Regions from separate parts of the Homo sapiens genome. Here all the other regions are reported to be linked to region 2. The links are microRNA targets in miRTarBase. Many come from high-throughput screens and were not tested one by one. Region 2 holds a microRNA gene; each other region holds the end of a gene's coding sequence.
Evidence for each region. The annotated mature microRNA hsa-miR-5011-5p reads UAUAUAUACAGCCAUGCACUC and lies in region 2 at 2,767-2,787, shown strand. An mRNA with a match to its seed (bases 2 to 7 or 8) in the 3' UTR can be bound and repressed. Matches are read on the target gene's strand: a 7mer-m8 pairs with bases 2 to 8, a 7mer-A1 pairs with bases 2 to 7 and ends in A, and an 8mer does both.

Region 1: the mRNA of PPARGC1A is a reported target of hsa-miR-5011-5p. Seed matches in the 3' UTR shown: 7mer-A1 at 2,830-2,836, 8mer at 2,828-2,835, 8mer at 2,826-2,833, 8mer at 2,824-2,831, 8mer at 2,822-2,829, 8mer at 2,820-2,827 and 13 more.
Region 3: miRTarBase lists HPS3 as a target of hsa-miR-5011-5p. Seed matches in the 3' UTR shown: 7mer-m8 at 3,384-3,390.
Region 4: miRTarBase lists COL8A1 as a target of hsa-miR-5011-5p. Seed matches in the 3' UTR shown: 8mer at 3,159-3,166, 8mer at 3,161-3,168, 8mer at 3,163-3,170, 8mer at 3,165-3,172, 8mer at 3,167-3,174 and 7mer-m8 at 3,169-3,175.
Region 5: the mRNA of CCT4 is a reported target of hsa-miR-5011-5p. Seed matches in the 3' UTR shown: 7mer-A1 at 3,284-3,290 and 7mer-m8 at 3,283-3,289.

What each region holds. Positions count from the first base shown.
Region 1 is chr4:23,792,495-23,796,551 of GRCh38, forward strand. PPARGC1A (PPARG coactivator 1 alpha) reads right to left here. Exons shown (of 13, transcript NM_013261.5): 13 at 1-3,431. The coding sequence ends at 3,328. Among named protein-coding and RNA genes, the nearest start is that of PPARGC1A-AS1, 25 kb to the left of the region's middle.
Region 2 is chr18:67,078,841-67,082,910 of GRCh38, forward strand. MIR5011 (microRNA 5011) reads left to right here and starts at 2,744; the gene lies at 2,744-2,846.
Region 3 is chr3:149,171,645-149,175,701 of GRCh38, reverse strand. It overlaps HPS3 (HPS3 biogenesis of lysosomal organelles complex 2 subunit 1), which reads right to left. Exons shown (of 17, transcript NM_032383.5): 17 at 1,970-3,607. The coding sequence ends at 3,480. It overlaps CP (ceruloplasmin), which reads left to right. Exons shown (of 19, transcript NM_000096.4): 19 at 1,972-3,205. The coding sequence ends at 1,988. Among named protein-coding and RNA genes, the nearest start is that of HPS3, 44 kb to the right of the region's middle.
Region 4 is chr3:99,795,445-99,799,501 of GRCh38, forward strand. It overlaps COL8A1 (collagen type VIII alpha 1 chain), which reads left to right. Exons shown (of 4, transcript NM_020351.4): 4 at 1-3,773. The coding sequence ends at 692. Among named protein-coding and RNA genes, the nearest start is that of CMSS1, 20 kb to the right of the region's middle.
Region 5 is chr2:61,865,050-61,869,106 of GRCh38, forward strand. It overlaps CCT4 (chaperonin containing TCP1 subunit 4), which reads right to left. Exons shown (of 14, transcript NM_006430.4): 14 at 3,036-3,657. The coding sequence ends at 3,643. Among named protein-coding and RNA genes, the nearest start is that of FAM161A, 13 kb to the left of the region's middle.

The sequences.
Region 1 (4,057 bases), not on the chromosome of region 2:
AAAGTTCCCTCTCTGCTGCTTTGAATGTTGACAGCCCAACTGTTGTTCTCGGAGTCGTTTAGCAAAAAATTGATTTTGTTGCACTGGAAGAATTATTCTGCTACATCTCTTTTAAAAAAGAAAAAAATCCACATTACTAAAGCACCAGTTCGGTTACCAAAATTGTAGATGTGGTACTTACCACGGCATGAAGGCAATGGCCCACGGTCTTCTAAAAATCCTACAGATCTATGCTGAAATTTGCCTCCAGTGATGATGGGGTGCACGTGTTCATTTGAAATATTCTCTCCCAAAAAAATAAAAATAAAAATGAGAGGAGCACAGCTTACATTTTGATGGGCTACCCACAGTGTCTGCAGAAGATACAAAAGCTCCACTAATTCTAGATGCAATTTGAAGTCCATTGAGGAAAACTATCTTCATGGTAACAATATTTGTCAGGCTGGGGGTAGGGGGGATAAATTAATCCTCAATATGATATCTGTAGTGCTGTCTTTTGATAAGTAAGAAAAGAAACCAAGTATTCCACTCATGTCAACAATCCAGGGCAAAAAGGAGAATGTATTTAAAATTGGTTCACAAAAATTTAAAGGCAAAATAGAGAACACATGTGGTCCTTGAACACATAATAGGATTTACTAAATCTCGATTTCTTAAAAATAATTTATTGCTCTTAATAGTCTTTTTATTATTATTCTACAACAGAAGATACTCAAAATTCAGAAAGAAAGACTGTAAACTTTAGTTTGGCGTTCACACAGTTAAAATACCTGCATTTAACCTACAGAACAACAAGAATTAGGCGGATTAAAGATGTGTTACTGTTGTAACGCAGAACCTGTGAACAAGTTCTTTCATTTCATAGTATTTTTATTGCTTTCTATCTACTTAGAAATAAGAAGCCAAAAAATCAAGCAAGCATCCGACAGGACAAACAGTGGATTCACTCAGAACACAATATGCTGGTGATAAATGAATGCAGCTATCAAAATTAGCTGCATTGGCCTGGGGGTGAAATCCATCTTACAAGATCGTGTTGGGCGAGAGAAAGGAAAAGAACAATTGAGTAGTAGGTGTATCATGTCTTCCAGAAAAGTCATGTCAGCCAAACAGTAATCGAATCTCAATTTAGAAACTTGAATACACACTCCAAATGTTACTGAATTCCATTCCAGGGACTCCACACTCAGATGAAATCCTGATGATCAAAATGGAGGTTTTTCTGAAGTTTTTATTAAATTTAGCAGAAGCAATGTCATCAAGAACAACACCATGGTCACGTCAGAGGCCATGCTAGTGCAAGTAGAAACACTGCTTCTGCAAAAGCTGAATTTCCCAAATGAAGCACTTACACTCCAACCTGACAATTGTCATGCATCCTAGGTAGAAAATTTCCACTGGCTTTATTATTTTCATCATCTCATAATTTATAATAAATAGGCTATCTGCAACTGATAAATATGTCTCTTTAGTAAACAAAGGAATGAAATATCAGTATTTATACAGGATGCATAACTGTAAAAAATACAGATAAATACCATCGTCATACTCTGCCAAGGGAAAGAAATACTGGCTTCAAAGATAGTCTTCAGACACACATTAATTATTGTAAAAATCATACTATAATTATTACCTCAGCATTTTGTATCAAATTAAAATCACAAAAATTAAAACAAAACAGCATTTTAAAAAGATTTTTGACTTCTAGTTTCAAAACTACTGTTGATAGAGAAAATAAAAACATTTCTTAATGGTTACCCATTGAGAGACTTTACATAAAATCATGATATCTTCTAGAAAAATTTTAGATGAGAAAATTTCATTCCCCTAACAAATCCAGTGTATAAAACTTCAAAGAAAAACAAGCGACAAGAAAATGTGGAAAAATATCGCAGAAGTGGTTAATACCTTTAGGGGACTAGGATATTTCTTGACAAGATGCTTAGATTGAAGCTCACCTAAGGGATGGATGTGCGGAAAGCATCATTTTGCTCTTGTTGCACTCAACAGACACACACACTGTCTTTTTGTTTTTACAATCAAATATATATAAGCAGTAAGTTCAGCTTCTAAATATGTTAGTGTACAATAATTGTTTCACCTCATAATTACATTTGAATATTCTTGATTAAGAAAAATTTAGCAGTTTTGAAAAGAAGGCTGCATTTACAGTGCATAGCTGTAACAAAAAAGAACATTGTTGTATAGTATATACATAAAATAAAAATACTCCATTTAACATCTGTAAATACTTAACTACATCAGAGAATGTAGCAATTACACTATCTGAACACATCTCAGAGAGTTCTACCCAACTCTCATTAGTAATGTAACCCGGTGTCCGCTCCTCAGAAAGAACCGCTGAACAAGCTGCACGCTTGACCATTGACAAGGCTTTTGAAATTTGCAGTGGAAGATCAACATTTTGGACATTTACATGGGTGTCAGGATTAAGGATGAACTACAGAAACTTCAAAATGTTAGGAAACTTTAGCATTCTGGTGCCCGCAGTATCCTCTCCCACCCAGATTCCATGGCAAAAGGAAAAAGAAAAAAAAAAGAGAGAGAGAGAGAGAGAGAGAGAGACAGGATATTAGTTCTATGGAACCTGTGGTTTCTTCAGGATTGTCATATAATCATTACGTTATGAGAGAAAGCTTGCTTCAAGTTGATTCTGCACTTTCTTAAAAAAACAGAGTACAAAGGCTGATGCCCAGACATCAGCGGCTGTCATTTTAGGGTGGTTTGTGGTTGGTTGGTTGGTTGGTTGGTTGTTAGTTTTCTTTCCTTTTTAATTTATATATATATATATATATATATATATATATATATATATTTCCTTTTGAATAGAATACGAACATTTTGAAGTTCTAGGTTTTAAGCGTGTCTTCATGGAACTGCTGCCATTTGAAATGGTTTGCCCTTGCGCATTCTGGTCAGGTGCCCCCAGTCCTCACATGTACCCACACATACTTCCCCTAAACCAAGCACACACACCACACACATACATACACACACACATACATGCACACACGCACACTCCATCACCAAGAGACTCCAGGAAAAGCAAAGCTGACACCCATGAATAAACATGTGCTTACTGGATATCATTCTGTCTCTTGCCTCTTCAGCAGCTGTGTTCATGTAAACCATTGTTGTTATTGTTGTTGTTGTTCTTGTTGTATTGTTGTTGTTTTGTTTTGTTTTTGTACAGAGAGTGTAAAGTAGGAGAAATTCCTAAGTATGACTTGCAATAGTCTTTAGGGAAGGACGCGCTGTCCCATGAGGTATTCGCCATCCCTCTGTCATCCTCAGCTAGGGAACATGTTACCTGCGCAAGCTTCTCTGAGCTTCTTTCAGTAAACTATCAAAATCCAGAGAGTCATACTTGCTCTTGGTGGAAGCAGGGTCAAAGTCATCTGAGTTTGAATCTGAAAAAAAACACAAGCCAGTTTAGATACACACTTTGCTGATGGCCATTAACTCAATCATTCCAATTCAAGATTACTGGATTCGATAACAACTCTTCCAATCAATATACTTTAGAAAACAATAGTCAGATTTTATTGGATATATATGGATATATAGGAAGAGGATGGGGAGTAGTGAGCTTTCAAAAACACGCACCTGTTGACTCGTTTAGGCTTAAACACCCTGGGAGTTAGGCAGAGCACACGTTAATATATCTCTGGCAGATAACCACCCTCCCCTTCCCCCGACACGTCAAATGACTTGCCCATGGTTCCTCAATAACTTAGATGTAGACGTGAGAGTACAAGCTGGAACTAATTTTCCTATTCAATGGGATTAATTTAATTGAGCATAAAATCCAGTAGAGTATGAGAGAAAGAATCATGAGAATTTCCCCTAAACTTCAACCTGATGCTTCTCTTTGAGGCAGGAGGGGACATATGATGTGGTCCTCTACTTCCGTACCTCTTGGCCTCCCAGAATTTTTGGTGCAAATTCTCCCCAAATTGGAAGGTTGAGAGAAATGCTTCACATCCCAGGAGAGTAAATTCGGAAAGAAGAAATAAAGTGCAGGTATAAATAAAGC
Region 2 (4,070 bases):
AAAATTAAAAAGGCATATGATAAAAAGAAATATATTACATCACCTGTATATTACCAGAGCTATGATTATCCAAAAGAAAAGGAAAAAACATCTACATTTATGAAAGCAGAAGCAGTACAAATAAATAAACATATATTTATTTATTTCTATTCTATAAACTGGATAATGTACGTAACTCTACCATGTATATTAGGGTAATTAAGCTCATGAAATCATTTAAATGAAAGTGGATTTTCAAATATTAGACTAGAAAATAATTAAAAATGTGTACTTAGCCCTATAAGTTTTGAGTTCTAGTTGATGAGACAGAAATACTTTTAAAATTTATGAAGTATCCACATTAATATGAAGTAACATTTATTTTACCTTATTGGAATTCTAAACTTTCAGAGTCTTAAGCATGATTTTTCTTTTCTAATGCAATGAGCTCTTTTAATTACAATCATTGTTAAATAAGAATACTAATATATATGGCATTTCCCAAGGTTACTCTGCTTATAACTTTAAAATTTAGCTGTTGCCAAAAAAAAAAATTTCAGCTCAATTTAAATTTCTTTTGTGACAGCTTTTATCTGCTCACCACTGCTTTCTTATGGCAATCATAAATTCTCAATGCGAAGCAAAGCACTGTTCTGCTTTCCTCAAACAAAAGGGAAACTCATCATGTGTTTTATTTTAAGAAGAGCAACATACTTCTCAGGCATTTATTATCTGTATGTCCTCAGGTTTTGTGACAAAAAAGCTATACACACAAACACATCCATGTATGTATAGAAATGTAATTGGAAACATATCAATTTTTTCTAGCCAGTAGATACACCTTCGGACGTCTTGAACTTAAAATGAAAAATTAAAGAAAAACTACATTGCAAACTCTCCATTGTCTCTGGGGTTCTTAGCTCATTTTCTCTGATAAAACCATGGGCATGGACAATTAAGAAATTAAGATGTGACCAATGATACAATAACATCCTGAAAATTGTACAGTAAGCCATCTGACCCTTAGAAACTTGTGTGCAAGTGTGTTTATCTTTGTAGATAGATCTTAATTAAATTACCTGGATCAAAGCTTAACGTATACTAAATTGCCACTCATGAATTATTGTCACACATTCTTGAGACACGGCTTTACAAATTTATATCCTTAAAAACCTAGATTGGAGTGCCTTCTTCACACATCCATGTCTAATATGGATCATGTTGAGTATCTTTGGATATATTAATTTTGCAATTTAATTTCAGAAAAAAGTAGTATAACACTATTGTTTTGATTTATATTTTTCTAATTGCAAAAGTTTTCTAATTTTCATGTATGTATTGGTAATTTGCATTCTATTCCTATAGAATTGTATATATTTTATTTTGTAATTTAGTATTGCTTCTTAAAAATAAATATTGACATTGTATATCATTTCGTTACATATATTGTATGTTTTCCTAATCCATCATGCATCACATACTTTGTTTTCCATATAAATTGTCATATATGTTTATTAACTAACTCATAAATACTCATATCTGTCACCATTTTTTAATGCTTTCTTGTGTTTTGTCATGTTTAGGAACACTTTCCCCACAATTCACAATACTATCTGACAGGTGTTAGTATACCTGTCAGTGTTCTTGGTTGTAGATGACTGAAATCCATTCCAATTGACCTAAACCAGGTAATAGATTATATTGGATAAATCATATAATTATTGGAAGGCTAAAGAAACAGGCTCAGAACAGGGCAGCCCCATGGAAACCAGGTTCCAGAATGGCAGTAAAATCCCCCCACAGGAACAGTCTGATGAGATAGCGCTGCTGCCACCGTGGCACTTCCTCCCCTAGGGCCTGGGATATTTGATGGTTAATTTCTGTACCTCTGTGATGAATACATACTTGTTTGTTTCTTACTGTTTTTACTTCTTGCTTCTGTTTCAAATTTCTCCCCGAAGCCATCTGTTTTAGTTTCCTCAGGCTGCCATAACAGATTAGCATAAAACAAATGGCTAAAAGAACAGAAATGTATTCTCCCCCAGTTCTAGAAGCCAGTTCAAACTCGGGTGTCGGCAGGATTGCATTTAATCCAGGATTCTAGGAGACAATTCTTTCTTATCTCTTCCAGTTCCTGGTAGCTCCAGATGTTTCTTGGAGCTACACTTGGCTATTTAAAGTTAATTTTAATGTTTAATTAACTAAACATTAAAATAATTAAAAAGTCAGTCCCTCCATTGTGTTAGCTGTATTTGAAATACTCAAAGGCACATGTGGCTACAGGCTACTATATTGGACTATGCAAGGGTAGAACACGTGTTATCACACAATGGTCTCTTGCACAGTATTGCTCTAGAATATTCCCTGGACAGAAAAGTTTTACCTGTGGGGCATTAAACAACAAAGAGCCTTACAATTGCCTCTGACTTGTATAGTAAAGCCAACAGTTGTTTGTTGTCATCGTCAGAAAAGTTGATTCCATATTTGAATATGGTTTCACTGCTTGTCATGCTTGGCCAATGCCACAAACCATGGATTAACTGATGGCCTTCTCCACTCTCATGGCTATTCACCCCCAACAATAGAACTTATTTCTTTCATGTTGCCTCATATGGCAGAATCCCCTTCTATTTTAAGGCTGAATAATATTTCATGGTCATATACATATATACACACACACAGTCATGCATTGCTTAACAGGGAAATGTACCTTAAGGCAATTTTATCATTGTTTGAACATCATGGAGTGTCCTTATCCAAACCTAGATGGTATTGAGTGGATGCTGTTATATATACAGCCATGCACTCTGTAGTTTGGGTACACAGTGCATGGCTGTATATATAACACTATCCATTCATCTTTCAGCAGGACTTTTTTTTGGTCACAACCCTGCTAACCAAAACAGGATCTGGCCAGAGAGCATGAAGTGAAGAAACTGATAGGAAGTGGCAGATGTCAACAAAAGCAATCTCTAACTACTCATTGCAATTTAATTGTCATGGTGCTGGTGGTAGTGTCTTATGCTAATGAGCAATATGAGCAGCCTGGCAACACAACCCAGAAGTTACCACCTCTTTCCATGGCAACAACCTAAAAGTTACTGCCCCTGCCTTAGAAAGTTCTAAACAACCTGCCCCTCAATTTGCATTGGCTCACCCCTCAATTTGCATGCATTTGACCTGCCTTAGAAAGTTCTAAACAACCTGCCCCTCAATTTGCATTGGCTCACCCCTCAATTTGCATGCAATTGAATGTGGGTCTCGCTGAGTATAAATACCGTTGCCAAGAGACCATATGTTGCTGACTCTGATTGCACTGCCTATGATTTAGCCCTGCTCTGCAAGGAGCAGTACCATTCAATAAACGATTGCTAAGACTCCTAGCTCATCCTTGAATTTTTTCCGGGGTTAAGCAAGAAATCCTCCCTGGCTAAGCCCCAGTTTGGGGCCTTGCCTGTCCCACAGCAGTGTAACGTACTACACACTTAGACAATATGACATAGACTGTATCTCCTAGGCTACAACTCTGTATAGCTTATTATTATACTGAATGCTATAGGCAATTGTAACACAATAGCATCCGTACATCTAAACATACCAAAACAAAGAAAAATTACACTAAAAACACAGTATCGTAATCTTATTGGACCACATTTATATATGTGGTTTTTTGTTGACTGATGCAATACACAGTGCATGGCTGTATATGTAACACTATCAGTCACCATTCAATGAGCAATTAGGTCGTTTCTATACTTTATTGCTACTAACACTACAATGAAATACATATGGATAAACCTAGAGGGCATTAAGCTAAGTAACTCTTACTTCTAAGATTTCTACCTTAAAGAGTCATATTTATGGCCTTTACTTGAGGTAAACTTCAGAAGCCATTTGTTGTGGATTAGGTAACGTGTGGAGAAATTGCTTTGTTGGGTTTTTCTTCCTTTGCATTTTAGTTTACACATATTAATTGTATGTATTTATAATCTGCAGAGTGATATTTTGATAAATGTATATGAAGTGTAATGATCAAATCAGAGTAATTAGGATAAACATCACCTCAAACATTTATCATTTCTTCATGTTTG
Region 3 (4,057 bases), not on the chromosome of region 2:
CATGTGTAGGTACACACACACACACACACACACACACTTAAAATGGAGAAAAATGAACAGTTTTTTTGGTAAGATTCCTGCACTGTGGCTGCAGGCTTTGGTCTTTCCTGGGTCTTTCGAGTTGAGGATTGTTGTAATTAGAAATGGTAAATTCAAAGGGAGGAAATTATGTAAAGAAAACCAATCTATGTCTTTCCTCCCTAAAATGGGGAAAAAGGGAACATACAAATGAAGAAAATATAAATGTAAATATATTTGAAGATTTAAAAAGCCCTGAAAGGTTAACCTTTAGTGCAAATGGAAAGTTTTAATTTCTGCTCCTGGGTCTTACACAAACAACTTACATCATGAAAAACTATTTCCATTAATGCCCTTTTTATTAGAGCAGTCACTGATAACACTAGAATATCAAAGACTCTAACAGACAAGCCACTAAATTTAACGCCAATAACTTGAACAAAGTGAAGAGAGCCAAATATGAGAAAGAAAACTTTAGTCTTTAAATAACACTTGCAACCATGTGGTTACATGTGGTTGCATGTAAACCACACAAAAGGATGGTCTTGCTCAAAAAAATAATGGTGAGTAAGTAACATGGAGGCATTTGGGGAATTCATGTGTGCAAATGCCTGGCATGCAGAGTATGGCACTACAGGGTAACCCTACACACACAGCCACAGAGAAGATTCCTCCTGTGTAACAACCGTGAAAGAAGAGGGAGATTACTGCTTGGTTAAGAAAGGCGAGATAGTTTTTAAAGCTATAGTAAAAATTACAGAACAAATAGCAAATATGAAGTAAAAATCAACACTAGATAAAAAATTAAAGAGAAATTTGACTTTTGCAAAGAGAAAAGGTATTGCATGAGACTGAAAGCAGCAGACTGAATAAAAAAAGATAGTTTGAACTATCTTTGGCCCATAAAATCAGTGGCCATGTTTATCAGTCTGAATCATCTTTAAATAAGTCCAATAAAGCTTTGAGCAAGTTTACATTAATTATGAGTCTTAGAAAAGCCTGCTTAGCTTTAAATTTCTTACAGGCAGGGACTATATATTCTGTATTTCTAGCTAAGTACCCAAATCCAATACAATAGTTTGCTTACTGAATGTATAACAACATATTAATTCAATGAAGAGAAACTTTTGAAACTTTTTTGACATAATTTCAGATTCCCATATACCTTTCACCCAGATTCCCCAAATATTAATGATGTGCGTAGCCACATTGGCTTTCTCATTCTTTTCCCTATCTCCCTCTCATGCTCACCCTCTATATGTACACACACAGACGTGTATAGATACACATACAACTATCTTTCCTAAAAACAAGAATATTCTTGTACATGACCACAATACAATGATCGAAATTAGAAAAGCAACAATGATTTAAAAACTAGAGATCTTCAAATTTCGCTAATAATCCTAATCATGTTCTTTACAGAAAAAGAAAATCCCGGATCATGTACTGCATTGTTGCCATGTCTTTTAAGTCTCCTTTACTCTGAATAATTCCTTAATAAAGGGCACTTTGTAGAATGTCCTTCAATTTGAGTTTGTCTAATGTTTCCTTATGATTAGATTTAGGTTATGCACTTTTGGCAAGACTATCATGGCATGATGTTGTGTTTTTCTTAGTACACCATATCAGGAGGCACAAGATATTGATCAGTTCTATTACTGGTTATGTTAACTTCAAGCTTTGGTTAAGATGGTGTCTGCCAGGTGTCTCCATTGTAAAGTTATTCATTTTCCCTTTACAATTAATAAAGATCTTGTAGGGAAGAAAGTAATCTTTCTTTAAATAAAGCAGCAATAGAATGAGAGATTTTTAAACATATAAAAAGCAGAAAAATATAAATGAATCAGGAGTAAAGTAACATTAAAAATTGGAATACATTTAAAGAACCATCTACTAATTTCTAACCATATATTATTTTTAATAATGGTCTTAAAATTTCTTTTTCTATAGACACCAAATCTGGCTGAATGAAATAAATTGGTGATAAGTGGAAAAAAGAGAAAAACCAATGATTCATAACAATGTATGTGAAAGTGTAAAATAGAATGTTACTTTGGAATGACTATAAACATTAAAAGAAGACTGGAAGCATACAACTTTGTACATTTGTGGGGGAAAACTATTAATTTTTTGCAAATGGAAAGATCAACAGACTATATAATGATACATGACTGACACTTGTACACTAGGTAATAAAACTGATTCATACAGTCTAATGATATCACCGCTGTTAGGGTTTTATAAAACTGCATTTAAAAAAAGATCTATGACCAGATATTCTCCTGGGTGCTCCTCAAAGGAACACTATTAAGGTTCATTGAAATGTTTTCAATCATTGCCTTCCCATTGATCCTTCTAACATGCTGTTGACATCACACCTAATATTCAGAGGGAATGGGCAAGGTATGAGGGAAGGAAATAAAAAATAAAATAAATAAAATAGAATGACACAAATTTGAGTTTTGTGAACCCCTGAACAGATGGTCTTAAGGACGTTATCTGGAACTGGAGAAAAGCAGAGTTGAGAGACAATTCTATAGATTAAATCCTGGTAAGGACAAACATTGCCATTAGAAGAAAAGCTTCAAAATAGACCTGTGGCAGATGTCACATGAGTAGAATTTCTGCCCAGCCTTAACTGCATTCAGAGGATAATATCAATGAACTAAACTTGAACTAAAAATTTTTTAAACAAAAAGTTATAAATGAAGACACATGGTTGTGAATACAATGATGTATTTCTTTATTTTCACATACACTCTAGCTAAAAGAGCAAGAGTACACATCAACAAAAATGGAAACAAGGCTTTGGCTGAAAAAAACATGCATTTGACAAATCATGTTAATAGCTAGACAAGAAGAAAGTTAGCTTTGTAAACTTCTACTTCATTTGATTCAGAGAAACAGAGCATGAGTTTTCTTAAAAGTAACAAGAAAAGGAACAAAAAAAATGAGGTTTGAAATCTTTTACCATGGCAAAACATTAACATCTTTCTCAAAAACATAGAGAAATCTGGAAAAATCAAGAAGATAAAATTCTGGACCAGTTAGTGACATTCTTTCAAGCATACTTGTAAAATGTTTCCTTAAAGTGTTCTTGGGATGAAAATGATTGTCATGTCTCCAACAACAGTGAACTGATGTTGTTCCTTGGAATAAAAGTCAATCCCCACCTTAAAAAATGTATGGCTTCTTTGAGGAATTCTTATGTCTTAAAGACTTTTTACATTCTAGACAATTAAATTGATTGAGGTCATAAATTAAGAAGTGAATAGTTACCACTACACGGTAAGGTAAGCAGCCTGAAAGCATTTGTATCATATATGTGTGTGTGTGTGTGTGTGTGTGTGTGTGTGTGTGTGATATATAAAATAAAAAACTCCTCTACTTGTACTTTGGCATTCAATTTTTAGAAATTCAGTCTCAAATGCCATTATGGTATTTTTCAAATGATACCTTTAAGTCAATGGTTTCTTTCGACTGCAATAGAGAAGATATGGCAAGAAAAATGTTGCAGTACCATCTTCTGGGAGAACATTCATGAAATCCTTCAGTTCTAGTTCCACAGCAACAATTGACAATGTTTCTGTGTAGAAAAGAATATCTGAATTAGAATTGAAAGTCTGTCTTTCATTCAATCTCTTCTTACTTAACCAACCAATTAGAAGCCAGTTCAGGCCAGGCGTGGTGGCTCACGCCTGTAATCCCAGCACTTTGGGAGGCCGAGGTGGGCAGATCACGAGGTCAGGAGTTCAAGACCAGTCTGGCCAACATGGTGAAACCCTGTCTCTACTAAAAATACAAAAAAATTAGCCGGGCATGGTGGCGCACACCTGTAATCCTAGCTACTCAGGAGGCTGAGGCGGGAGAATTGCTTGAACCCTTGAGGCAGAAGTTGCAGTGAGTTGAGATTGCACCACTGCACTCCAGCCTAGGTGACAGAGCAAGACTCCATCTCAGGACAAAAAAAAAAAAAAAAAAAGAAGCCAGTTCAGGTAACAAAATGTTATAACTTCAAAGAAAAAAATCAGTCTCT
Region 4 (4,057 bases), not on the chromosome of region 2:
CAGGCCCCAAAGGGGAGCCGGGCCTCCCAGGGCCCCCTGGGTTCCCTGGTATAGGGAAACCCGGAGTGGCAGGACTTCATGGCCCCCCAGGGAAGCCTGGTGCCCTTGGTCCTCAAGGCCAGCCTGGCCTTCCAGGACCCCCAGGCCCTCCAGGACCTCCAGGACCCCCAGCTGTGATGCCCCCTACACCACCACCCCAGGGAGAGTATCTGCCAGATATGGGGCTGGGAATTGATGGCGTGAAACCCCCCCATGCCTACGGGGCTAAGAAAGGCAAGAATGGAGGGCCAGCCTATGAGATGCCTGCATTTACCGCCGAGCTAACCGCACCTTTCCCACCGGTGGGGGCCCCAGTGAAGTTTAACAAACTGCTGTATAACGGCAGACAGAACTACAACCCGCAGACAGGCATCTTCACCTGTGAGGTCCCTGGTGTCTACTACTTTGCATACCACGTTCACTGCAAGGGGGGCAACGTGTGGGTTGCTCTATTCAAGAACAACGAGCCCGTGATGTACACGTACGACGAGTACAAAAAGGGCTTCCTGGACCAGGCATCTGGGAGTGCAGTGCTGCTGCTCAGGCCCGGAGACCGGGTGTTCCTCCAGATGCCCTCAGAACAGGCTGCAGGACTGTATGCCGGGCAGTATGTCCACTCCTCCTTTTCAGGATATTTATTGTATCCCATGTAAAAACAAAAAAACAAAAAACAAAGAAAAGAAAGAGATTTTATAGAAGAAAATGACACACCAAAAAATCCAAATGAAAAACATAATTGCTTCAAAACACTTACACAGTTGGAAAGTTATATGTAAGTGAAAATTTGGACCATTGTGTACAAATAAAAACTAAGATGCATGTTTAATACTCCACACAGCAGCCTGTAATTGCGAATGATGGGATAGAGTTATGTATCAAGTACTGACACTTGGTTGTACCCACTGGAATCATATTAGCTGTTTTATGTTATATGCTTCCACAGTAACCTGCTTATTCAGATCAGTCAAAATATATCAGTATGAAAGATCATAGCTAATGAAAGGCACTCACTCATATTGTTTACTTTAAAATATTTATAAATATGCCTTAAAGAAATACAAATGATAACAATTACATACCGTATTTACTTGCTTAATTTCCTCTGTATTTGTGTAGATACTTTGACATGGAATATATGGTGGGGAGACCCGTAGTGTTACCGCCCCAGTGGGAGGGGGCCCTGGGGACCCTGGTAATGCTTTAGTCAAAGGGATATCTCTCTTGTATCAGAGGCTGTGTCTTTTAGTAACAGGAGTCCTCGTCAGAATTGCGTGTCTGTTGTCTCTAAAAGAATGGGTGAACCAATCGGCCTTTGTGAATTTATTCAGTGCCTTCTCTGTACCAAGCACTGGGTAAGGCACTTTTGTGGAGCATTAGACAGTAACCCTCAAGGAGCTAGAGAACCGGATGGGAGACATGAGCAGTAATTAACTCACTTGTTCCCCAGAGTTTCTATTTGTTTTGATTTTCTTTTTCTGTGACTTATTTTCCTATTTTCTTTCCTCCATGTAATTTTCACTATGGCCCAACTAATATAAACACCTGGAAATTACAAGGAAAAAAAATTCTTCCTCTAATAACTTTCCAAATTTGTGGAATATTTATTTGTAATAGCAGTTATCAGTTATGCTTATATAGCATTAAAAATTCTCCTCCTTTGACTACACACACAACCACAGTGTGGTTCTAATCATGGAGATATCAGTAATTTTTAGTAACTGAATTTTGAGGACATTTCTCTGTTTAGCATGTATGCAAACTGATATGTAATCTGAGGTTCCAAAGTCAATTTTTTTCTTTTTTTTTTGAGATGGAGTCTTACTCTGTCACCCAGGCTGGAGTGCAGTAGCACGATCTTGGCTTACTGCAACCTCTACCTCCTAGGTTCAAGCAATTGTCCTGTCTCAGCCTCCCGAGTACTGGGACTACTGTCTTGCGCCACCATGCCTGGCTAATTTTTGTATATTTAGTAAAGATGGGTTTTCGCCATGTTGGCCAGGCTGGTCTCAAACTCCTGGCCTCAAGTGATGCACCTGCCTCAGCCTTCCAAAGTGCTGGGATTACAGGCATGAGCCACCGTGCCCGGCCAAAGTCAGCTTTCAAAATCCAAGCCATAATTGGTGAGGGGGGAGTTTCAGAATTACATAGAAAAATTAATATTTGAAAAAATAATTCTGAAATTTCGAATTTAAAAACAGATGTGCTGCTTCTGGGTGTAGGTAGTAAAAGTATAGGAAAAGAACTGTTTCCTTAGAAGCGGACTGTGGAAGGGCTATGTAGAATGTCAAAGGGCAACAAGAGCCTGTGTTTTTAATGTCATCCTGTACTCGGCACAAATCAAAGGCCAATACAAGTCTGAAAAGCAGAAATAAATATTTTTCCAGGTTTTTGCTTGGGCACATACTAACTGCTTTGGGCATTCTAATCTGGTCTCCAAACACCAAAGACCCATTTCGAGCCTGCTATTAGCCTGCTGCTGACTCTATCACTTGGAGCAATAATGTGGGGTTATGGTGGTGGAATCTTGTATATTTTTGTCAAAAATAAAACCATGAGTTAAGGGGATAGATATAGATGGAAAAATACACAAATAAATACGGTATGAAAACACATGGAAATGTGTCTTTGTCAAATCTGAATCATTATTACCATCACAAAAATTCTTCTCTTGGCCAATATCTCATTTCCCTATATAGTATACAAGCACCATTTCTTCTCAATTTTTAAGAAGAGAAATTAGTCCATTACCACAGGGGTTCTTGTCACTACTAATTATACAACAATCTTTTCCCAACAAAAAGATGTCCTCCACAACCTTTGTTTTCAAAGCAGACAGCATCTATGTGGCCAAATATACTTTGGGTTGTTCTTGAGGATACTGGTTTTGGGCTGATGACTATGGTGGGCAGCATGGATCCATTGGGCTCCTTCTGCTAAACAGCCACATTGAAATGGTTTAAAAGCAAGTCAGATCAGGTGATTTGTAAAATTGTATTTATCTGTACATGTATGGGCTTTTAATTCCCACCAAGAAAGAGAGAAATTATCTTTTTAGTTAAAACCAAATTTCACTTTTCAAAATATCTTCCAACTTATTTATTGGTTGTCACTCAATTGCCTATATATATATATATATGTGTGTGTGTGTGTGTGTGCGCGTGAGCGCACGTGTGTGTATGCGTGCGCATGTGTGTGTATGTGTATTATCAGACATAGGTTTCTAACTTTTAGATAGAAGAGGAGCAACATCTATGCCAAATACTGTGCATTCTACAATGGTGCTAATCTCAGACCTAAATGATACTCCATTTAATTTAAAAAAGAGTTTTAAATAATTATCTATGTGCCTGTATTTCCCTTTTGAGTGCTGCACAACATGTTAACATATTAGTGTAAAAGCAGATGAAACAACCACGTGTTCTAAAGTCTAGGGATTGTGCTATAATCCCTATTTAGTTCAAAATTAACCAGAATTCTTCCATGTGAAATGGACCAAACTCATATTATTGTTATGTAAATACAGAGTTTTAATGCAGTATGACATCCCACAGGGGAAAAGAATGTCTGTAGTGGGTGACTGTTATCAAATATTTTATAGAATACAATGAACGGTGAACAGACTGGTAACTTGTTTGAGTTCCCATGACAGATTTGAGACTTGTCAATAGCAAATCATTTTTGTATTTAAATTTTTGTACTGATTTGAAAAACATCATTAAATATCTTTAAAAGTATGTTTCTCATCTTGTTCGTATCATTCAGTTGACACTGAACCTCACAAGTATTTTTAAATTCGTACTCTCATGAATTAGCTGCTGAAATAGAGACCTAAAATAAGCATAGCTTATACAGAACAATTTATTCCTCTTTGACTTAAGAGCTCCTAGGATAAGCAGTCTAGGACTCACATGGTAATTCCAATCACAGCCCCAGGCTCCTTCCATCTTATTGCTCTTCTACATCAAGGGTGTTGCCCTCATCTCCATGGTCCAGGATACTAACCATCAGTCACATTCTA
Region 5 (4,057 bases), not on the chromosome of region 2:
AAAAAAAAAAAAAAAAAAAAAGATGTATATGATGGCCAAGTTGACAGTGGGTAGATTTATGATGCCTAATGTGTCAACCTGGCCAAGGGATATTTGGTTAAAACATTTCTGGGAGTGTCTGTGAAGGTGTTTCTGAAGGAGATTTAACATTTGAATTGGTGGACTGAATAAAGCAGATAGCCCTCCCCAGTGCTGGTCAGCATCATCCAATCTGTTGAGAGGCTGAGTAAGAAAAAGGTGGCTGGGTGTGGGCTCAGGCTGGGCATGGTGGCTCACACCTGTAATCCCAGTATTTTGGGAGGCTGAGGCAGGTGGATCAACTGTGGTCAGGAGTTCAAGACCAGCCTAGGCAACATGGTGACACCCCGTCTCTACTGAAAAAAAAAAAACAAAAAACCAAAAATGAGCTAGATGTGGTGGCACGTGCCTGTAATCCCAGCTACTAGGGAGGCCGAAGCACGAGAATGGCTTGAACCTGGGAGGCGGAAGTTGCAGTGAGCTGAGATCACACCATTGCACTCCAGCCTGGGCGACAAGAGCAAAACTCCATCTCAAAAAAATTAAAAAAAAAAAAAAGACACTCTAGAGCAAGCTTGTCTAACCTGCAGCCCACAAGCCACAAGCAGCCCAGGACAGCTTTGAATGTGACCCAACACAAATTCGTAAATTTTCTTAAAACATTTTATATATGTATTTTTTTTTTTTTTAGCTCATTAGCTATTGTTAGTATTAGTGTATTTTATGGTTTGGCCCAAGAGAATTCTTCTTCCAACGTGGCCCAGGGAAGCCAAAAGATTGGACACCCCTGCTCTAGAGATTGTCAGAAAAATCTGAACACGGATTGGGTGTTGGACATTACAGAACTGTTTTCTTACAATTGTTTTCTTTTTTCTTGAGATGGACGTATTAATACAGTACTTCATAACCATTTAACATGGGTAAAACTTATTAGGCTTCCTTTGTGCTAAAGTTTTTGGGTGTTGTCTCCATTTTGCATACTGCAATGACTTCTGTTACCTAACTATGTAACAAAAGGTCAATTAATAGCTAAATCTAAGTGGAGGGTAATACAATGTTCATACTACTCTTGAAACCTCCCCAGTAGCTGGGATTACAGGTGCCTGCCACTATGCCCGGCTTTTTTTTTTTTCCTACCTTTAGTAGAGACGGGGTTTCACCATGTTGGCCAGGCTGGTCTCAAACTCCTGACCTTGTGATCCACCCGCCTCGGCCTCCCAAAGTGCTGGGATTACAAGCGTGAGCAACCACGTCCGGCTGGAAGAATTCGAAGAATGCTGCTATACACACTATTTGTATTATTTAGGCATAACCTATGAACAAAAAGCTTTGTGCTGTTAGGCTGGGCATGGTGGCTCATGCCTGTAATCCTAGCACTTTGGGAAGCCAAGGTAAGGATAGCTTGAGCCCAGGAATTAAACGCCAGCCTGGGTAACACAGCGAGACCTCGTCTCTGTGAAAAAAAAATACAAAAATTAGCCAGGCATGGTGGTGTGCGCCTGTAGTCCCAGCTACTAGGGAGGCTGAGGTGGAAGGACTGCTTGAGCCTTGGAAAGTTGAGGCTGTAGTGAGCCATAGTTGTGCCAATGCATTCCAGCCTGGGCGACAGAGCAAGACCCTGTGTCAAAACACATAAAACAAAAACACTTGGCTGGGCATGGTGACTCATGCCTGTAATCCCAGCACTTTGGGAAGCCGAGATGTGCGGATCACGAGGTCAGGAGTTCAAGACCAGCCTGGCCAACACGGTAAAACCCCATCTCTACTAAAAATACAAAAACTGGCCGGGTGTGGCAGCGTGCACCTATAATCCCAGCTACTCGGAAGACTGAGGCAGAACTGCTTTAAACCTGGGAGGCGGAGGTTGTGGTAAGCCAAGATGGCACCATTGCACTCCAGCCTGGGTGAGAGCGAGACTCTGTCTCAAAAAAACAAACAAAAAAAACTTTCTGCTATCTGGGTGCAGTGGCACAGGCCTGTAGTGCTAGTTACTTGGGAGGCTGTGGCAAACTTGAGCCCAGGAGTTTGAAGTTATAGTGAGCTATGATCTTCACACATGAATAGCCACCACTCCTGCCGAAGCAACATGGCAAGGCACTGCCACTGAAAAAAAAAACATCTTGTGCTGAGTAACTGACAGATGTTTAAATATGGATTAGGTATTTTGACTTATGATTTTAGGATATACCTGATTCAACTGTTTTATGGCAGCTAGAATTAACATATTTCACGTTCTTATCAAAGTGAGGAATAAATTGAAGTACTAAATTCCAGATAATACAGAAATCTTTATCTAAAAATATTAGACACTTACCAAGTTAGTTAACTATTTCAGTTTCATGATGAACACAAAAGGAGCTTCAGACTGTTTGGCTGAAATCCTTTCTCCACAATGCTAGAGGGGCCTAGTTGCTTTCATGAAACTCCTTGTGAAATACTCAAGGAGATGGTAGCTGAAATACCAGATTGTTTAGGCCAAACTTTTGATCGACCTTAAAAGGTCTAGCCTTTACTCAAAGGTATGAAAGCTTTTACAAAAAGAGTGCTTGACTAAGTGCCTTTAATCCCAGGGCTTTAGAAGACCAAGGCAGGACTGTTTAAGGCCAGGAGTTCAAAACCAGCCTGGGCAACATAGTGGGATCCCATTTCTGAAAAAAAAAAAAAAAAATATATATATATATATATATACACACACATATATATATAGGGATGGTGGCACATACCTGTAGCTGTAGCTATTCTAAAGAATAAAGCAGGATTCTTTATTCTTAGCTCAAGTCCAGGAGTTCAAGGCTGCAGTGACCTATGATCACGCCACTGCACTCCAGCCTGGGTGATGAGCTTTTCTCTAAAAAAAAAAAAATCACTAGACTTCAATATGTGCGAAATAAATAGATTGGAAGGTGGCTAAAGGGAAGAGACTAGTTACAGATTTGACACTCTTCATGGTGAGATGACACTGATGCTTAGATCAGGACAGTGGCAATCAAGATGTTTAAAATCACTGGAACAAGACATTAGTTAAGAAACCCTTTTGTTTAAGTAAGATTTGCTACATATATGTATACACTTTTATTTGCAGAAGGAATCCAACACAGCAGTCATTATTACTGGGAAAAGGAATTAGGATGATAGGATAAAAGGAGGCTTTCATTTTTCATTCTCTTTCTGTACCATTAACTTATTTTTGTTTTAACTGGGCAGCCTCCCAAGCCAAAGTAGGTTCAGAGAGGTGCCACTTGGATCATTAACTTTTAAGACAGCATATATATTATATGTTGGTAGTTTTTAAGGCCAGGGAGCATTTATCAGTGATGAGCATATTGGGCCATTTTTTTCCTCAACATGTAAACTCACTTTTTACGCTTCTTTTATTAGTTTTTATTAGTTTTTCAAAAGTATCAGAAATAACAGAATGTTGGGAGAAGATAAATCTGCCTTTTGAAACCAAATATTTAATATTTTCATTAAATTGTTTCAATACAACTTCAGGCAAATGCCAACTGGAAGACCAAGCCCAGAAATTCAGAGGAAATAATCTTCCAAACAAGGAACACCAAGGTGATCTTCTTCCATTCCAGCCACAATACTGGTGATCATAATGGTGCTAGTCAGTTATCCAGATTATCGAGTGTTTACCTGATAAGAGAAAAACTTAGATTTCAAAACCTGTAATGACAGAATTTTAAAGCTGGAAAATGTTTAAGGCAATTAATAAAAGGAAAACCTGTATTAAGAACTGCTGTCACCTTGATGACTAGCAAATATTTATCAAAAGTAAAAACTTGGCCAGGCACGGTGGCTCATGCCTGTAATCCCAGCACTTTGGGAGGCTGAGGCAGGTGGATCACAAGGTAAGAAGTTCGAGACCAGCCTGACCAACATGGTGAAACCCCGTCTCTACTAAAAATACAAAAATTAGCTGGGTGTGGTGGCACATGCCTGTAATCCCAGCTACTTGGGAGGTGGGAGACTGAGGCAAGAGAATCGCTTGAACCCAGGAGGCGGAGGTTGCAATGAGCCGAGATCATGCCACTGC